Homo sapiens: one gene and its partner. Each later gene encodes a partner of the first gene's protein in a complex. Each region holds a gene or a part of one and is shown in the gene's direction. Other genes may lie near its edges. The genes, in order: EIF3B and EIF3J.

What was found.
Region 2: the proteins of EIF3B (region 1) and EIF3J are in contact, whole or in part, in an NMR structure (PDB 2KRB), measured with the Homo sapiens proteins. Residues at the interface, in NP_001032360.1 of Homo sapiens: Lys202, Asn205, Val206, Ile207, Lys209, Ile210, Lys213, Asn249, Ala250, Asp251, Gly252, Tyr253, Lys254, Leu255, Phe261; in NP_003749.2 of Homo sapiens: Asp45 (codon at 6,485), Glu46 (codon at 6,488), Asp50, Asn51, Trp52, Asp53, Asp54, Asp55.

Annotation. Positions count from the first base shown.
Region 1 is NC_000007.14:2,350,379-2,359,440, forward strand, and holds the start of EIF3B (eukaryotic translation initiation factor 3 subunit B), read left to right. Parts: upstream 1-4,448; 5' UTR 4,449-4,543; coding exon 4,544-5,042; intron 5,043-9,062.
Region 2 is NC_000015.10:44,530,929-44,540,146, forward strand, and holds the start of EIF3J (eukaryotic translation initiation factor 3 subunit J), read left to right. Parts: upstream 1-6,218; 5' UTR 6,219-6,266; coding exon 6,267-6,309; intron 6,310-6,395; coding exon 6,396-6,499; intron 6,500-9,218. UniProt on the Homo sapiens protein: Component of the eukaryotic translation initiation factor 3 (eIF-3) complex, which is required for several steps in the initiation of protein synthesis.

The DNA of each region.
Region 1 (9,062 bases):
CATAGTTATGAACCAATGTTAATATCAATAGAAATGCAACAAACCCATAAAACTTATAATTTCACGGAAACTATAAATTTGGCCTTAAAATGAAGTCACGTTTCTTTAGAAAGAGTTTTGAGGGAAATTAAAGCTTACCCCTGGGCCGAGCGCGGTGGCTCATGCCTATAATCCCAGCACTTTGGGAGGCCAACGCAGAAGGTTTGCTCTAAGCCAGGAGTTCAAGACCAGCTTGGGCTAACAGTGAGACACTCTCCCCCATCTCTAAAAACAATTTTTTTTTTTTGACACAGAGTCTCACTCTGTCATTTAGGTTGGAGTGCAGTGGCACAACCTCGGCTCACTGCAGCCTCTGCCTCCTGGGCTCAAGTGATCCTCCTGCCTCAGCCTCCTGAGTAGCTGGGATTACAGGCGCCTGCGGCCACACCCGGCTAAATTTTGTATTTTTAGTAGAGATAGGGTTTCACCATGTTGGCCAGGCTAGTCTTGAACTCCTGACCTCAAGTGATCCTCCTGCCTCACTCTCCCAAAGTGCTGGGATTACCGGTGGGAGCCACTGTGCCTCGCTCTCTAAATAAACAATTTAAAAAATTAGCCGGGCACAGTGGTGCACGCCTATAGTCTCAACTACTCAGGAGGAGGCGGCGGGAGGATCACGAGCCTGGGAGTTTGAGGCTGCAGTGAGCCATGATTGCGCCACTGTGCTCCCGGCCTGGGTGACAGAGTGAGACCTTGTCTCAAAAACAAAAAGAAAAAAATCTACCCCTGGAAGCACAACACAGGCCACGCTGCAGGTCAGCCTGGGAGCCTCATCCGGCCATCTCTGCTGCCAGGGTTGGTGCGGTGCCTCAGGTTTCCCACTCCTTCACCTCAGAGGCTCAGAAATAGACCAGCGGAGGCCAGGCCTGCTGGCTCATGCCTGTAGCACTTTGGGAGGCAGAGTTGGGAGAACTGCTTGAGCCCAGGAGTTGAAGACCAGACTGAGCAACATAGTGAGACCCCATCTCTACAGAAAAACAAAAAGGTAGCCCGATGTGGTGGTGTGGATCTGTACTACCAGATACTCAGGAAGCTAAGGTGAGCCTGTGAGACTGAAGCTACAGTGAGGTGCGACGGCACCACTGTACTCCAGCCTGGGTGACAGAGTGAGACCCTGTTAAAAAATAATAATAGGCCAGGCGCAGTGGCTCACGCCTGTAATCCCAGCACTTCGGGAGGCCAAGGCGGGCGGATCACGAGGTCAGGAGAGTGAGACCATCCTGACTAACAGGATGAAACCCGTCTCTACTAAAAATACAAAAAATTAGCCGGGTGTGGTGGCAGGCGCCTGTAGTCCCAGCTACTCGGGAGGCTGAGGCAGGAGAATTGCTTGAACCCGGGAGGTGGAGCTTGCAGTGATCCGAGATAGCACCACTGCACTCCAGCCTGGGCGACAGAGTGAGACTCCATCTCAAAAAATAAATAAATAAATAAATAAAGATAATAATAAAAACAAAAAATCGAGTAAGTTTTTGTTGTTGTTGTTGGTTTTTTTTTTTTTTTTTTTTTGAGATGGATTTTTGCTCGTTGCCCAGGCTGGAGTGAAATGGTGCAATCTCCGCTCACTACGCCCTCTGCCTCCAGGGTACAAGTGATTCTCCCGCCTCAGCCTCCTGAGTAGCTGAGATTACAGGCATGTGCCACCATGCCTGGCTAATTTTTGTATTTTTAGTAGAGATGGGGTTTCACCATGTTGTTCAGGCTGGTCTCGAACTCCTGACCTCATGTAATGCATCCGCCCACCTTGGCCTCCCAAAGTGCTGGGATTACAGGTGTGAGCCACCATGCCCGGCCATAATTTCCTTCTTCTAATAAGGACATCAATCACTGATTTAGGGTCCACTCTCGTCCACTTTGACTTCATCTTGATTACATCTGGGAAGACTGCTTCCAAACACAGTAGCCCCCCCGACCCCCAGTTTCACATTGCACTGTTTCAGTTACTTATGGTCAATTAGGTTGGAAAATATTACATAATGAAGAAAATTTGACAGAGAGAGACACAGACACACCACCAGACACCACATCCACATAACTTTTATGACAATATATTGTTATAATTGTTCTATTAGTTATTGCTGTTAATCTCTTACTGTGCCCTATTGTAAGCATGCATATGTAGAAAAAACATACTCCCAGGCGTATTGGCTCACACCTGTAATCCCAGCACTTTGGGAGGCCGAGGCAGGCGGATCACAAGGTCAGGAGATCGAGACCATCCTGGCTAATACGGTGAAACCTCGTCTCTACTAAAAAAATACAAAAAAAATCAGCCAGGCGTGGTGGCGGGCACCTGTATTCCCAGCTACTTGGGAGGCTGAGGCAAGAGAATGGCGTGAACCCGGGAGGTGGAGCTTGCAGTGAGCCGAGATCGTGCCACTGCACTCCAGCCTAGGCGACAGAGCAACACTCCGTCTAAATAAAAAAAAAAAAAATTGTCATCCCTTATTGTACAGATGCGGAAACTGAGGTGGAGGCATTAAGTGACCTGCCCAAAGATACACCACTGACAGCATGATGAGGAGTAGTCAAACCTGGTACTAGGCATGGGAAGACTCTGCTTCTTTTTCGCTCTTTTAAACACCGTTAGGATGGGATGGGTGTGGTGGCTCATGCCTATAGTCCCGGCACTTTGGGAAGCTGAGGGAGGAAGACTGCTTGAGGCCAGGAGTTTGAGACCAGCCTGGGCAACACAGTGAGATGCTATCTACAAATAAAGAAATTAGCTGGGCACGGTGGCACATACCTTCAGTCCCAAGTACTTGGCAATGTACTTAATGTCACTGAACTGTACACTAAATTGCATATTAAAATGGCTAGGCCCTGCGCGGTGGTTCACGCTTGTAATCCTGGCACTTTGGGAGGCTGAGGTGGGAGGATTCTCTTGAGGCTGGAAGGTCCCGATTGCAGCGGCGCTGTGATTATGCCACCGCACTCTAGCCTGGGCAACAGAGCGAGACCCTATCTCTGAAAACAAACAAAACAAAAAAACTATAGGATGAAATATACATAAAATTTACCTTTTTGGCATTTTATTTTATTTTTTCGAAGACAGGGTCTCGCTATGTTGCCCTGACTGGTCTTGAACTCTTGGGCTCAAGTGATCCTCCTGTCTTGGCCTCCCAAAGTACTGGGAAGAGAGGTGTGAGCCACCGCGCAGGGCCTAGCCATTTTAATATGAAGTTTAGTATACAGTTCAGTGGCATCAAGTACATTCACCATGTTGTACCATCACCACCGTCATCTCCAAAACGTTCTCATCCTCCCAAATTGAAGGTCCGTCCCCGATAAACACTCCCCACTCTCCACCCCAGCCTCTGGGTACCACCTGTTTTATTTATTTATTTAATTTTCGTAGAGATGAGGGCTGGCGTGCGGGGGGTGGTGGTGCTATGTTGGCAAGGCTGGTCTCCAACTCCTAAGCTCAAGCGATCTTCCCACCTCAGCCTCCCAAAGTGCTGGGATAACAGGCGTGATCCACTGGGTTGTTTTCTAGGATGATTAAGACATCCCCCAACCAGTGGTTGTCCTCCACTCCGGCAAAAAACAAGATAGAAGCCACATGCACCCAATGCCCGTCCCGTGAGCACCCGCGCAGAGCGAACCGCTCCGGTCCCTCCGGAGTCAGCCTCGAGCTCCACGCGGCGAGGACCCGCCCCCGCCCCCACGTGACCCGCGCTGTCCCGCGCTGAAGGCGGCGGCCTCGGATGGACTGAACCACTGTGAAAGCCCGAATGGGGGGAAACAGGCAGTGACGGCCGCTAGGGAAGGACTGGGGGTAAGCGATTAAAGAAACTTCCATACATTTTTGTATCGCGCCAGGCAGTCGTCCTTCTAGTCGTGTGGGCCCTCTCTGGCTCGCCCCGAATTCCTTTTCTATTTTGAAGTAGTCTGTCCTTTTGCTCAGTCAGTAGGCGAGTCCAAGTGACAGACACGGACAGGGGGGACTTTAGTAACGTAAACTAAACGGTTTCCCTAGCGAAAGGCTCAGACGCCCTGAGCAATCGCCTGTTGAGTCTCCACTCTTCCAGGGTATTAACTGTTGAGTTAGAGGACATTTTCCTAGCATTCCGGGTACTAAAATCATTTCTTGTCCCCGCCTTCAGCTCCACAAATAGTTCAGTCCCGCCCCGCAGCGTCCGACGGGAAAGGAAAGGGGGAGGACGCCATGTTGGACGGAACCATCTGCTGCCACACATGGGGTGGTCAATGCTCCCATGAGTTTACTGATGCACAGAAACAACCTTGCTGAATGGAATTAAGCACTTTCTTGTCACAAATATATCAGTTTGATGATTTTCGGGCGCGGTCTTGTGGATGCGAGTCCTCTCAGGGTCGTTCGTGAGGCCCCAGGGCGTGGGTGCGCCCCCCGCCCCGCGGCCTTGGTGCGGCCTCCCCGTCGCACGCACATGGCTGGGCTGTAGCCGTCGCGGCGCGCGGTGCGGCCTGGGAGAGTCGGAAGCGCGGCGGCCGCGGAGCCCTGCGAGTAGGCAGCGTTGGGCCCATGCAGGACGCGGAGAACGTGGCGGTGCCCGAGGCGGCCGAGGAGCGCGCCGAGCCCGGCCAGCAGCAGCCGGCCGCCGAGCCGCCGCCAGCCGAGGGGCTGCTGCGGCCCGCGGGGCCCGGCGCTCCGGAGGCCGCGGGGACCGAGGCCTCCAGTGAGGAGGTGGGGATCGCGGAGGCCGGGCCGGAGTCCGAGGTGAGGACCGAGCCGGCGGCCGAGGCAGAGGCGGCCTCCGGCCCGTCCGAGTCGCCCTCGCCGCCGGCCGCCGAGGAGCTGCCCGGGTCGCATGCTGAGCCCCCTGTCCCGGCACAGGGCGAGGCCCCAGGAGAGCAGGCTCGGGACGAGCGCTCCGACAGCCGGGCCCAGGCGGTGTCCGAGGACGCGGGAGGAAACGAGGGCAGAGCGGCCGAGGCCGAACCCCGGGCGCTGGAGAACGGCGACGCGGACGAGCCCTCCTTCAGCGACCCCGAGGACTTCGTGGACGACGTGAGCGAGGAAGGTGAGGGCGCCCGGGGCGGGGCTGGCGAGCGGCGCGGGAGCGTGGCTGGGGTTCCCGAGGTGGGAGATATCGTCGGGCTGTGCCACCGGTTCGTGCAGAAGTTCCAGCGAGGGTGTCCGTGTGTTCCTGAGAAGCCACCGAGGGAGGGGTTCCCGAGTGCCCTGGAAGTGTTCTGAGAGCCCAGCGCCTCCCCTTTTCTTTCCTGAAAAAGGGGACAGGGTGGAGCTCACTTCGGGAGCCAGGCATTTGCATGACAACCAGAAATCTGAGAGGGTGGGAGAGGGCACATGGGGTACTCCGTTATGGCTGGGTGTGCTGTGAGTGTAGCAGCTGGGGGTACGGCAAAAACCGAAGACCCGGTGGCAGGTTTGCGGGTCTACGTGTCCCCAGAGCTGACCAGTCAGACCTCCCAAGGTCTGGATCGGAGGAACAGCTTGTGGCAGAGCCGGTGATTTTGTCCTCCTGCCCCTCAGAATTGTCCATCTCCAGAGACTTCCTTAGTGGGACAGGCACCCTGTGAAATTCCAGTTTGATTTTTCTTTATCTCTTGCGCTAAATCTATAAAGAGAGTTATTTTTCCAGGTTTTAATATTGCCGATAACAGCCAGCTTTGCCTTCATCTCAACCTTGATTGGATTTACAGGCATATTTTTGCTTCCTGTCTCAGAGATTTTTTCCTGAAGCTACTTCTGATGAGAGCTGGTCTCATTTGTTTTTCTTTTGTTTTTTAGCTCTCTTAAGCCTTTAAGTTGGGAACACATCAGCCTCTGCAGATTGGCTAAGTTGATACTAGAGTGAGAAAAATAAAAATACCCTTGCTGATGTAGCCAGCGATACACCAGGACAATTTCGGGAATAACATGGAGTTGCCAATTTATGATTTAAACGTATTTTTAAAAGGCTATCAGAGGGCCGGGCTGGGTGGCTCACGCCTGTAATCCCAGCACTTTGGGAGGCCGAGACGGGTGGATCACGAGGTCACCATCCTGGCTAACACGGTGAAACCCCGTCTCTACTAAAAATAAAAAAAAATTAGCCGGGCGTGGTGGCGGGCACCTGGATTTCCCAGCTACTCTGGAGGCTGAGGCAGGAGAATGGTGTGAACCTGGGAGGCGGAGCTTGCAGTGAGCCGAGATCCTGCCACTGCACTCCATCCTGGGCGACAGAGCAAGACTCCGTCTCAAAAAAAAAAAAAAAAGAAAAAGAAAAAAAGGTTATCAGAAATACAAGTCAGCCAGGTGTGCTGGTGCACACCTGTAGTCTCAGGTACTTGGGAGGCTGAGGCACGAGAATCACTTTAACCCAGGAGGTGGAGGTTGCAGTGAGCCTAGATCCCACCACTGCCTGGGCGACAGAGTGAGACCCTGTCTCAAAAAGTGAAAAATTAAAAAATAAAAACGCTGTCAGTTACTGTGACCATTACTATATTACACTTTTTTTTTTCATAAAAGACATTTTAGCATGAAAAGCAGGAAGGACACCACAAACTAAAGACTTTGGGAACATCTAGTCTACGCCCCTCAGTCCTGAGGAAACTTGTCCCTGAAGGTGGAGTAGGCTGCTGAGAATTCCCAGTGGGTCTATACTGCTTGGCCCACCAGACTCTCCTGCTCAGAACAGTGTTCTTTCTAACGCTTCAATTGTTATTATGGTTTAAAAATCAAAACTTTTGGTTTAATGATTATTTTGAGCCCTTGGATATTCTGCTACTTTTTTAAAAAGCATTATTTGAGCCCATCGAATTCACAGATTTCTAATACGTAGATTACTTCTGGAATTGGGAAGAGTCAGAGGATGCTAATATGACGACAGGGTTGGCCAGGCTGGGTGACGGCTGTGGGTCCTCAGCGGGCCCACGTGGCCCTGAAGGTGCAGTGTTGGCCAGAGTGACAGGTGAGGCATCTGGTCCTGAGGACTAAGGCTCAGGAAGCCGACTTTGTCATGGCCCTCCTGGTTGTGGTAACGCAGGTTTTGTGCTTTATGAGAAGAGCTGCCCTTCAGGGTCATTGTGCAAGACCGTAGGTGACTGTATCAGTTCTTTCCAGAAGGGCCAAGTCTTCCAAGGAGCAGGCCAGAGGTGGCCTGGAGTCCCTGTCTTGCTTTATTACTTTTTTGGTACAGATTAGCTTCTCAAACTGTAATCATCCTTTCAGTTTAATGTTTCAGCTGATCCAGGATTTTAACTCTAAATGTCTTTTTTGGCTCATTAACTATTCTTTCTCTTTCTATTTGCTATTTAGTGTTGAGAATTGTTCTCTTCTGTTTTTCCTGGAGACCGCTTGGGAATCCATGAGCCACGTGTAACCGATGCTTGGGCTGAGAGTGATCAAGGCGTTGTGTCTTCATGGTGTAGTTACTTCATTTATTTCCTTCCTACGTGTGGGCAGTTTCTCCTAGACTAGACGCTTTGAGCTTGTGGGAAGGAGTACCCAATTTGTGTAAAAGTTGAGCTTTTTATTGCAGCCTTATAAATTCAGATCAGGCTTGTCAGGCTATTTAATTGTATGGTAAGTGCTTTAGAAGTTACCCTAGGATTTGACTAGTTTCCATAGCAGGGTGTCCGGCACTGCAGTGACTGGCAACTGCCTTTTTCCCTTTTTTTTTCTCTTGTTCGTCTCAATTTTAGCATCGTTGAAAATAAAACGGCGATTATTTTTTAAGGCAGTATTTTCAATATTTCCTTTTTTTTTTTGAGACAGAGTCTCATTCTCTTGCTCAGACTGGAGTGCAATGGCTCACCGCAGCCTCTGCCTCCCCGCTTCAAGCGATTTTCCTGCCTCAGCCTCCCAAGTAGCTGGGATTATAAGCATGTGCCACCATGCCTGGCTACTTTTTGTATTTTTAATACAGATGGGGTTTTGCCTTGTTGGCCAGGCTGGTCTCGAACTCCTGGCCTCATGTGATTTGCCTTCCTTGGCTTCCAAAAATGCTGGGATTACAGGCGTGAGCCACCATGCTGGGTCAGTTTTCAATATTTCCGAAAGTGTTTTTTTGAGACGGAGTCTTGCTCTGTCGCTGGAGTGAGCCACCATGCCCAGCCAACTTTTGAGAATAAATACAGTAAAGAATATTTTCGGACATCTGCATATTTAGTATGTTGGAATTATCATTATTATTATTATTTGAGATGGAGTCTCACTCTGTCTCCCAGGCTGGAGTGCAGTGGCATGATCTTGGCTCACTGCAACCTCCATCTCCTGGGTTCAAGCGATTCTCCTGCCCCAGCCTCTCCAGTAGCTGGAATTACAGGCACCCACCACCATGCTTGGATCATTTTTCTCGTATTTTTATTAGGGACAGGTTTCACCATGTTGGCCAGGCTGGTCTTGAACTCCTGGCCTCAGGTAATCTGCCTGCCTCGGCCTCCCAAAATGCTGGGATTACAGGCGTGAGCCACTGAGCCTGGCCGTGTTCTAAATTCTGACACGTGATGCTTTCCAGCAGCCCTGCGAGGCATTTCATCACATCAAGAACAGCTTCACCTACCACTAAGAAAAAAATACTGTTATTTAATCTCAGTGGGGGTGGCAGCTCCCACCTGTAGTCCCTGCTACTTGGGAGGCTGAGGCAGGAGGATTGCTAGAGCCCAGGAGTTCCAGGCTAGCCTGGGCAGCATAACAAGACCCTGTCTCTTTACAAAGAAAAAAAAAAGTTGTTTCAGGAGCTTGTATATTCTCCAGTCTCCTAGTTTAAGTGCCGGTCTCTGCCCTGATAGTGTTTTTCAAAAAGGCTCTTTGTGATATAATTAAGAAATGTGTATTTGGGCTCTGCCTGGCTCTTGGCACTCAGCGTCTAAACCCTTGTAATTTCCAAAGTGGTAAGTGTCTTTTTGTAGACGAGGACTTGATTGATGGCTGGGGCTCCTTGCCAGGGAACCAACCACGTGATTAGAGGGTGGGACCTTTTAGGTCTCCCCCTGCCACCCAGAAGGAAGAGGGCTGAAAGTTGAGTTGATCACCGGTGCTCAGTGATGTCATTAATCACGCCTCTATAATGAGATCTTCATAGAAACCCAAAAGG
Region 2 (9,218 bases), on another chromosome or scaffold:
TGGATTTTAGGCACTCCCTGAGGAAGGCATGTTTTTTCCGCTGGCCAGACAGGAATAGGAAGGTACTGTAGGATTTTATGGTACCCTGTAAGTATGGAAAAATATATGGAAGTTGAATGGAGACAGTTTCGTGTCTTAAGACTCATGGGGGTAGGGTTTTGGTTTTTCGTTTTGGTTTAAAATAAAAAATTTCATTTAACTTAATCAAATCATATAAATCAAAAACTTTATTTATTTAATTATTGAGATGTAATCTTGCTCTGTTGTCCAGGCTGGAGTGCAGTGGTGGGATCTCAGCTCCCTGCAACCTCTGCCTCCCGGGTTCCAGCGATTCTCCCGCCTCAGCCTCCCTAGTAGCTGGGACTACAGGCGTGCACCATGATGCTCAGCCAATTTTTGTATTTTTAGTAGAGACAGGGTTTCACCATGTTGGCCAGGCTGGGCTCAAACTCCTGACCTCAAGTGATCCACCCGCCTGCCTTGGCCTCCCAAAGTTCTGGGATTACAGGCATGAGCCACTGTGCTCTGCCAAAATTTGTTTTTACATGTACTCTTTTTCCCAAGAAATCATTAGAAAAAACATGCAATGACTCCATAATTTTGCACTTTTATAAATAGGAGTTTTGACCTGCCCCTATTTCCAATTAAAACAATCTGCTCTTCAGCCTTAACCTAGTCCATCTTTATAAGATTTTGAGTCTGATGCTTAAGGTACTTCCTCTTAAAAAGAAGCTATAAAGGGGCCGGGCGCATGGCTCACACCTGTAATCCTAGCACTTTGGAAGGCCGAGGCGGGCGGATCACGAGGTCAGGAGATCAAGACCACGGTGAAACCCCGTCTCTACTAAAAATACAAAAAAAATTAGCCGGGCGCGGTGGCGGGCACCTGTAGCCCCAGCTACTCGGGAGGCTGAGGCAGGAGAATGGCGTGAACCCAGGAGGCGGATCTTGCAGTGAGCCGAGATTGTGCCACTGCACTCCAGCCTGGGTAACAGAGCGAGAGTCCATCTCAAAAAAAAAAAAAAAAAAAAAAAAAAAGAACTCTAAGGCCAGGCACAATGGCTCACACCTGTAATCCCTGCACTTTGGGAGGCTGAGGCGGGGGGATCACCTGAGGTTAGGAGTTCGAGACCAGCCTGGCCAACACGATGAAACCCATCTCTACTAAAACTACAAAAAATTATCTGGGCATGGTGGCACACACTTGTAATCCCAGCTGCTCAGGAGGCTGAGGCAGGAGAATCACTGGAACCTGGGAGGCAGAGGTTGCCGTGAGCAGAGATTGCGCCAGCCTGGGCAACGAGAGCAAAATGTCATCTCAAAAAAAAGAACCTATAAGTAGCTCTGCTTCATTTGTGTTGTTTATTTACTCTTCTATAGCTTCAATGATGAAACTTTTTTTTTTTTTTTGACATGAAGTCTCACTCTGTTACTTAGTCTGGAGTGCAGTGGCGGGATCTCAGCTCACTGCAACCTCCACCTCCTGGGTTCAAGTGATTCTCCTGCCTCAGCCTCCTGAGTAGCTGGTGGAACTCCTGAGTTCAGGTGATCCACCCGTCTCTGCCTCCCAAAGTGCTCGGATGACAGGCATAAGCCACTGCACCCAGCCATGAGGAAACTTTTTTTGAGACGGGCTGGCTCTGTCATCCAGGCTGGAGTGCAGTGGCACGATCATGGCTCACTGCAACCTCAACCTCCCAGGCTCAAGTGGCCCTCCCACTTCAGCCCCCTGAGTAGCAGGAACTACAGGTGTGTGCCACCATGCCCAGCTAATTTTTTATTTTTTGTAGAGATGGAGTCTTGCCATGTTGCCCAGGCTGGTCTTGAAATGAGCTCAAGTGATCCTCCTGCCTCAGCCTTCCTAAGTGCCGGCATTTTAGATGTGAGCCACTGTGCCTGGCCTGGAACTTCCTGACAGAAGTTTTAATGTTAATTTGTTAAGAAACATTGATTACCTAGTCTGCTCATCTGTAAAATGGGAATACTGTCACTGTCTTTGTGATTATAGAGCTCCCCTAGAGACTAACCTGTGAATCACAAGTTTTTTTGTGTGTTTGTTTTGAGACAGAGACTCGCTCTGTTGCCCAGGCTGGGTGCAGTGGCATGATCTTGGCTCACTGCAACCTCTGCCTCCTGGGTTCAAGCGATTCTCCTGCCTCAGCCTTCCAAATAGCTGGGATTACAGGAGTGCACCACCACATCCGGCTATTTTTTTGTATTTTTAGTAGAGACGGGGGTATCACCAGGTTGGCCAGCCTGGTCTTGGAACTCCTGACTTCAGGTGATCCACCTGCCTCAGCCACCCAAAGTGCTGGGATTACAGGTGTGAGCCACCACGCCTGGCACAAGTTTTACAGACTAAAGGAAGTCCCTAATACATAGGTCTAGAACCTTGTTTTCCTGTTTCCTCATTTGAAAAAGCAGTATGCACACCACTATAAATAAATTCTCAATTTCTGCTTTGAAAACAATGCTGCATACACATAGCCCATGAATTTTTCCATAGCACCTTCAACCCACATGCCCCAGTTTTTTTTTTTTTTTCTTTTCTTTTTTTTTTTTTTGATAGAGTGTCATCCAGGCTGGAGTGCAGTGGCACAATCTCAGCTCACTACAACCTCTGCCTCCTGGGTTCAAACCATTGTCCTGCCTCAACCTCCCAAGTAGCTGGAATTATAGGCATGAGCCACTATACCTGGCTAATTTTTGTATTTTTAGTAGAGACAGGTTTCACCATGTCCAGGCTAGTCTCGAACTACTGACCTCAAGTGATCCACCCACCTCGGCCTCCCAAAGTGCTGGGATTACAGGCATGAGCCACCGCGCCCAGCCTTCTTCTTTTTTTTTGAGAGGGAGTTTCGCTCGTCGCCCAGGCTAAAGTGCAATGGCGCGATCTTAGCTCACTGCAACTTCTGCCTCCCGGTTCAAGTGATTCTCCTGCCTCATCTTCCCGAGTAGCTGGTATTACGGTGCCCGCCAACATGCCCAGCTAATTTTTTTTTTATTTTTAGTAGAGATGGGGTTTGCCACATTGGCCAGGCTGGTCTTGAACTCCTGACCTCAGGTGATCCGCCCGCCTCAGCCTCCTAAAGTGCTGGGATTACAGGCGTGAGCCACTGTGCCCAGCATTTTTTTTTGTTGTTTGTTTTCAGATGGAGTCTCTCCCAGGCTGGAGTGGAGTAGCACAATCTCGGCTCACTGCAACCTCTGTTTCCTGGGTTCAAGCAATTTTCCTGCTTTAGCCTCCTGAGGAGCTGGGGTTACAGGCATGTGCCACCACGCCCGGCTAATTTTTGTATTTTTAGTGGTCTTGGGGTTTCATCATGTTGGCCAGGCTGGTCTTGAATTACTTCAAATGATCTGCCTGCCTCAGCCTCCCTAAGTGCTGGGATTACAGGCGTGAGCCCGTAATAGGCGTGCCTAACCAGTTTTCAGGTTTTTGACTTAAGCAACTAGATAAGTGTCACTCAATATCCAAAGGCATCGTCTATCTATTTCTCCCTTCCCCTCCTCCTTCATATCTAGTCAGACACTATATTAGTACGGGTTCTCCAGAGAAACAGAATCAATAGGATGTGTATATGCAGAAAGAGATTTATTTTAAGGAATTGGCTCACATTATTCTGGGAGCTGGCAAGTCTGAAATCTGCAGGGCAGACAAACAGCCTGGAGACCCAGGGAGATTTGACGCTGCAGTCTGGAGGCTGAATTGCTTCTTCTTAAGGGTCTCGTTTTAATTTGAACTGACCGGATGCGGCCCACCCTCATTATAGAGGGTAATGTACTTTAATCAAAGTCTGCTGATTTAAATGTTAATCACATCTAACAAATACAATTCATAGCAACAACTAGACTAGTGTTTGACCAAAAACTGAGTAACATGGGTAGCATCGCCTAGCCAAGTTGATAGATAAAATTAACCATTAAAGTCACTAAGTTCCATTGACAATGACCTTTAAATATTTCTCAAGTTGGTTTCTTCTTCTCCATTGCCATTGCCTTAATTTAGGCTTGTGTTCTCGTTTAATTAATTCATAAAATACTTACGTATTAGGCATTATGCCAAATGTTGGAGATACAATTGTGAGTAAGATTGTGTCCTTAGGGACTTACATTCCACCCTTTTCCTGACTTCTTTCTTGCCTCCTTCCAATCCACATTTTTTTTTTTTTTTGGTCTTGTCACTTTGATGCCCAGGCTGGAGTGTAGTGGCCAGAACGTGGCTCACTGCAGCCTCAACTGCCTCAGCTTCCTGAGTAGCTGGGACCACAGGACCACAGGTGCACACCACTATGCCTGGATATATATATTTTTTTGTAAAGATGGGGTCTCACCATGTTGGCCAGGTTGGTCTCGAACTCCTGGGCTCAAGCGATCCTCCCGCTTTGGCCTCCCACAGTGCCGGGATTACAGACGTTGAGCCACCGTGTCCGGCCCTGATCCACCTTTATAAATGGCTGTCTGTAGATCATGGCCTCTCACATTTTAACTGGGCTGTAGAATATGTATTGAAGGATCATCTTTATAAAATGTTTATTTGTAGACTCTGAAAAGATAACACCAGAAAGGGGGAACAATGGTTACCACTAGAAAGAACGGAGCGGAGCAGCTGATCGTTGTATCTACCTTTTTTGTTTTTTTTTTTTTTTTGAGACGGGTCTAACTGTCGCCCAGGCTGGAGAGCCGTGGCGCGATCTCGGCTCACTGTTGCAACCTCCGCCTCCCGGGTTCAAGCGATTCTCCTGCCTCAGCCTCCCTAGTAGTGGGGATTACAGGCGCCCGCCACCACGCCCAGGTGATTTTTGTATTTTTAGTAGAGGTGGGGTTTTACCATGTTGGCCAGGCTGGTCTCGAACTCCTGACAGCAAATGATCCGCCCATCTCGGCCTCCCAAAATGCTGGGATTACAGGCGTGAGCCACCGCGTCCTGCCCACGTATCTACCTTTTTATCACATGAATGTTGTACCAAGTTCGCGTATTACATATTTGAAAATAAATTGCGAAAATAACAAAAACAAAATCCATCTACTGGCTAGCTCTTTAAAATCCTGCGGGGGAGCCCAGTGGCCCAACGGCGAAGTTTAGCCCATCTTGCCCTTTCTGGTCAGTGTACCTGTTCCATTTATCTCTGACTGCGCCACTCAGTCAGGTGAGGGACCACTGGAGTTTTCTACCGGAAATGCACTTCAGCAAATGCCACTTGCTCTCTCCAACTTCAGTTTCAACCAGCGCCTACCTCAGGAAGCCTTCCTTCATCCTCCGGCCCCCGCCGCCGCTAAGGTTATCCTTTTACATTCAACCTCATAATGCTGCTTTTTGTGGCAGTCATCACAGTGTCGAAATTTGTTTACATGTCCATCTTTGCTACTTGATGGAGGGCAAAGATACACCTCATACCTAGCATAGACCCCAGGAGGTCCGAAATTGTTCTGCGAAAGAAAAAAAAATCAATGTGCTGGCCTCAAAGGGGCTCACAGGAAGGGAAAAGCCTCGAAGACTAAGGCTCTCTTCGATTCCTTCGTGACTAACTCGAGGCAAACATGCCAGGAACGCGGCTCTCCCCACCCGCTCCTGCATCTGCGCCCGGGGATCGCCGGATTCCAGAGGGGTCCCCTCCACCTAGCGCGCGACGACTCCCTCTGGGGTCCCGGAAGCCCGGCCACCGACCCCACAGGCGGGCGTGGCCTCAGAGCCCTCTTCTGAGCACGGCGTGGGTATCCGCAGGCGGCCATGGACGGTGATCACAGTGACCAGAGGGACAGCGCACCCTCCGGTCGAAGCGGGGTAGGCGTTGGCAGGGGAGGGGCGACGAAGACTGGCGAGGTTCAGGCGCCAGCCAAAGAACCACTCTGCTAACTTCCTGGCACTTACGTTTCCTACCCGGGGCCCAGAGTCGGGCGGCGGTCTTCCAGCACCACGAACTCCAGTACTGGTCTGCGTTGTAGGGAGCTGGAAGCCCGACCCAGCACTCCTCAGCCCCCTGTGCCCCTCCCTCTGCTCTTTCCGCCCCTCCCTCCGCCCCCCTCCGCCCCCCCCTCCGCCTCTCCCTCAGCCCCGCAGCGCCACCGACCGCGTTCCCCGCCCACTTCTTACCCGCGCGCGTCGCCGCCGCCGCCTGAGGGGGCGTGGCCTCGGCTCGGCGCACAGTCAGCCACGGTCCCATCCTGCTCCGCGCCGGTCAACGAGAGCAAACCCAGTGACTCACCTCCGCCGTGCTAACTCCTCGCTAGCTCTCCCTCTCACACACGCTCACACCCGGCTCGAGATGGCGGCGGCGGCGGCGGCGGCGGGGGACTCGGACTCCTGGGGTGAGGAGAAGTTGCTGGGGCAGGGCCCGGGCCGGCGCCGGCCCCACGCAGTGGCAGGCACTAACACGGCTCGCTTTCTTCCGTAGACGCCGACGCTTTCTCCGTGGAAGACCCAGTGCGGAAGGTGGGGGGCGGCGGCACTGCCGGCGGGGACCGCTGGGAAGGCGAGGACGAGGACGAGGACGTCAAGGTGGGTGCGGGCTAGGGCGCCGGGCAGCGCGGAAGCGGGCTGGCGCTGTTGCCGGCCGACTCTGGGCCCCGGGTCGCTGCCGGGGCCTGCGGGCCGTGGGTCCAGGCGCGAGCATAGGGCCTGGCGGTGCTCTCTTCCCCTCCGCTTGCCGGCCATGTGTGGGCCGAAGACTGGCAGCGTGGCCTCCCGGACTCCCTCGCCGGTTGAGAGTCTGCTCTCCGGCGTGGATCCCACCCGCCGGCTGGCGACGAAAGGTGACAGCATCGGCCGGGTCGGCCCACGTGCAAGCTTCGCGGTCCGGAGCCTCTCGCAGGAATGAGACCGGGAAGTTGGGAATTGAGCCTTGTAGCTTATCCATATGGAAAGCCTTGAGACTCGCCTGTCTTTTCGAGCTCAAGTCAGCCCAGGGCCAGTAACTCATTTATGACCCTGAGGTCTACTTATACAGTTTGTTCGAGGGATTAGATGAGTGAAATATTGTAGTTGAATTTCAACCTTTTTTTCCCACACGAGACAGCTAGAAACAGTAAAGGGAAATAACTTTTGGCTCTCCCTTCCCCCACCCTGTGGTAAAAAGAATGAACTGACCACTGAGATAGCCCGCAGTTAGTGGACAGAAACCCAGGTAGTTCACACCGTGACCTGAGAAATGGAGAGACGACAGTTACTCAACTACACACATACGACACCTAAGGAAATATTGAAGATTTGGTGGTGGTTGTAGATGACGGGCCCGTGGTTTTTTGTTGTTGTTGTTGTTTTGTCTGTGCCTTGTAGATAATCATTTTTACCTCAGTCGTTTGATTTTGAAAACTCCGAAGGGTTCATTATACAGCTGTAAGTGACATTTACTTCTACATGGTTTTTTTTTTTTTTTACAGTAGTTACAGAAGTCTCAAATCCAAAATGTTAAGACTCTTATTAACAAAGTTCTCAAAATCTTGTTATATTTGTGCAGATAAAGTTTTGTGTGAAATGGAAAATGATTTTTTTTTGTGGTTTTGCCTAATTTAGTGAATTTCTCCTAATTTATAAACACAAACGGAGAACCCTATAAATCCTGCCTGGGCTGAAAAGTTTAAGCTAGATAATCACTATGAACTTAATAGGAATGTTGTTTTGAGTTTTTCTGTTCTCTCCCCAGTCCGATGAGGTTGGATGTGTGGATGTCCGATTTACTGACAGCCTGAGGTTCAAGAATGTTGTGAGCTTTGCACACATTGAAGTTAATAAATCGACTGGTTATTGTTTGAAGACACTCAGATGCTTTATTTACATGTTGTAGAAACATGGGACTAGATTTTGTTACCAGCCGCATTACAAGATATTAGTTACCCCTCTACATTGTAGCAGATTTTCAGTTTTGAGCCTTGGGTTCATATTGGTCCTTTCATTTTTTTCCATGCATATAGGAAGTGGCAGTTAAGACATCTGTTATGAAATTTGGGAATAAATTAACAAATGCAGAGAAAAGATTAGAGATATTAGGAAAGAAGTTGCAGAAAATGAAGTTTTAATGGATAGTCTAGACTAATGTCATGGAATAACTTCCTTGGGATTAAGGGATCTAAATGGTATCGATCTTGATGAATATAATTCTTTTTTTTTTTTTTTTTGAGATGGAGTTTCGCTCTTGTTGCCCAGGCTGGAGTGCAATGGCGCGATCTTGGCTCACTGCAACCTCCACCTCCTGGGTTCAAGTGATTCTCCTGCTTCAGCCTCCCAAGTAGCTGGGATTACAGGCACGCACCACCACGCCTGGCTAATTTTGTATTTTTAGTAGAGACGGGGTTTCGCCATGTTGCCCAGGCTGGTCTTGAACTTCTGACCTCAGGTGATTCTCCTGCCTTAGCCTCCCAAAGTGCTGGAATTATAGGCGTGAGCTACCGTACCCAGCCTCTGATGAATATAATTCTGATCACTTGGAACAAGTTTTGGATATTTACAAGTTGTAAGGGACCACAAAGATTATCTTGTCCAGTTGCTCTTTTTTTTTTGGAAATGGAGTCTCGCTCTGTCACCCAGGCTGGAGTGCAGTGGCACAATCTCCGCTCACTGCAAGCTCCGCCTCCCAGGTTCACTCCATTCTCCTGCCTCAGCCTCCCGAGGACTACAGGTGCCCACCACCACGCCCGGCTAATTTTTTCTATTTTTAGTAGAGACGGGGTTTCACCGTGTTAGCCAGGATGGTCTCAATCTCCTGACCTTGTGATCTGCCCGCCTTGGCCTCCCAAAGTGCTGGGATTACAGGCGTGAGCCACCACACCCGGCCCCAGTTGCTGTTTTAGTGCTAAATTTCTTTTTCTTTTTTTTTTTTTTTTTTAACTTAAAGCAATCTATCTATTCATCTAATTTTTTGAGAGAAGGTCTCACCCCGTTTCCCAGGCTGGAGTGCAGTGGCACGATCTCTGCAACCTCCGCCTCCCGGATTCAAGTGATTCTCCAGCCTCAGCCTTTCTAGTAGCTGGGATTACAGGTGTGCACCGCCGTGCCCAGCTAATTTACATATTTTTTTCTTTTTTTTTTTTTTGAGATAGAGTCTTGCTCTGTCACCCAGGCTGGAGTGCCGTGGCACGATCTTGGCTCACTGCAACCTCCGCCTCCCAGGTTCAAGCAGTTCTCTGCCTCAGCCTCCCGAGTAGCTGGGATTACAAGCGCCCACCACCACACCCAGCTAATTTTTGTATTTTTAGTAGAGACGGGGTTTCACCATCTTGGC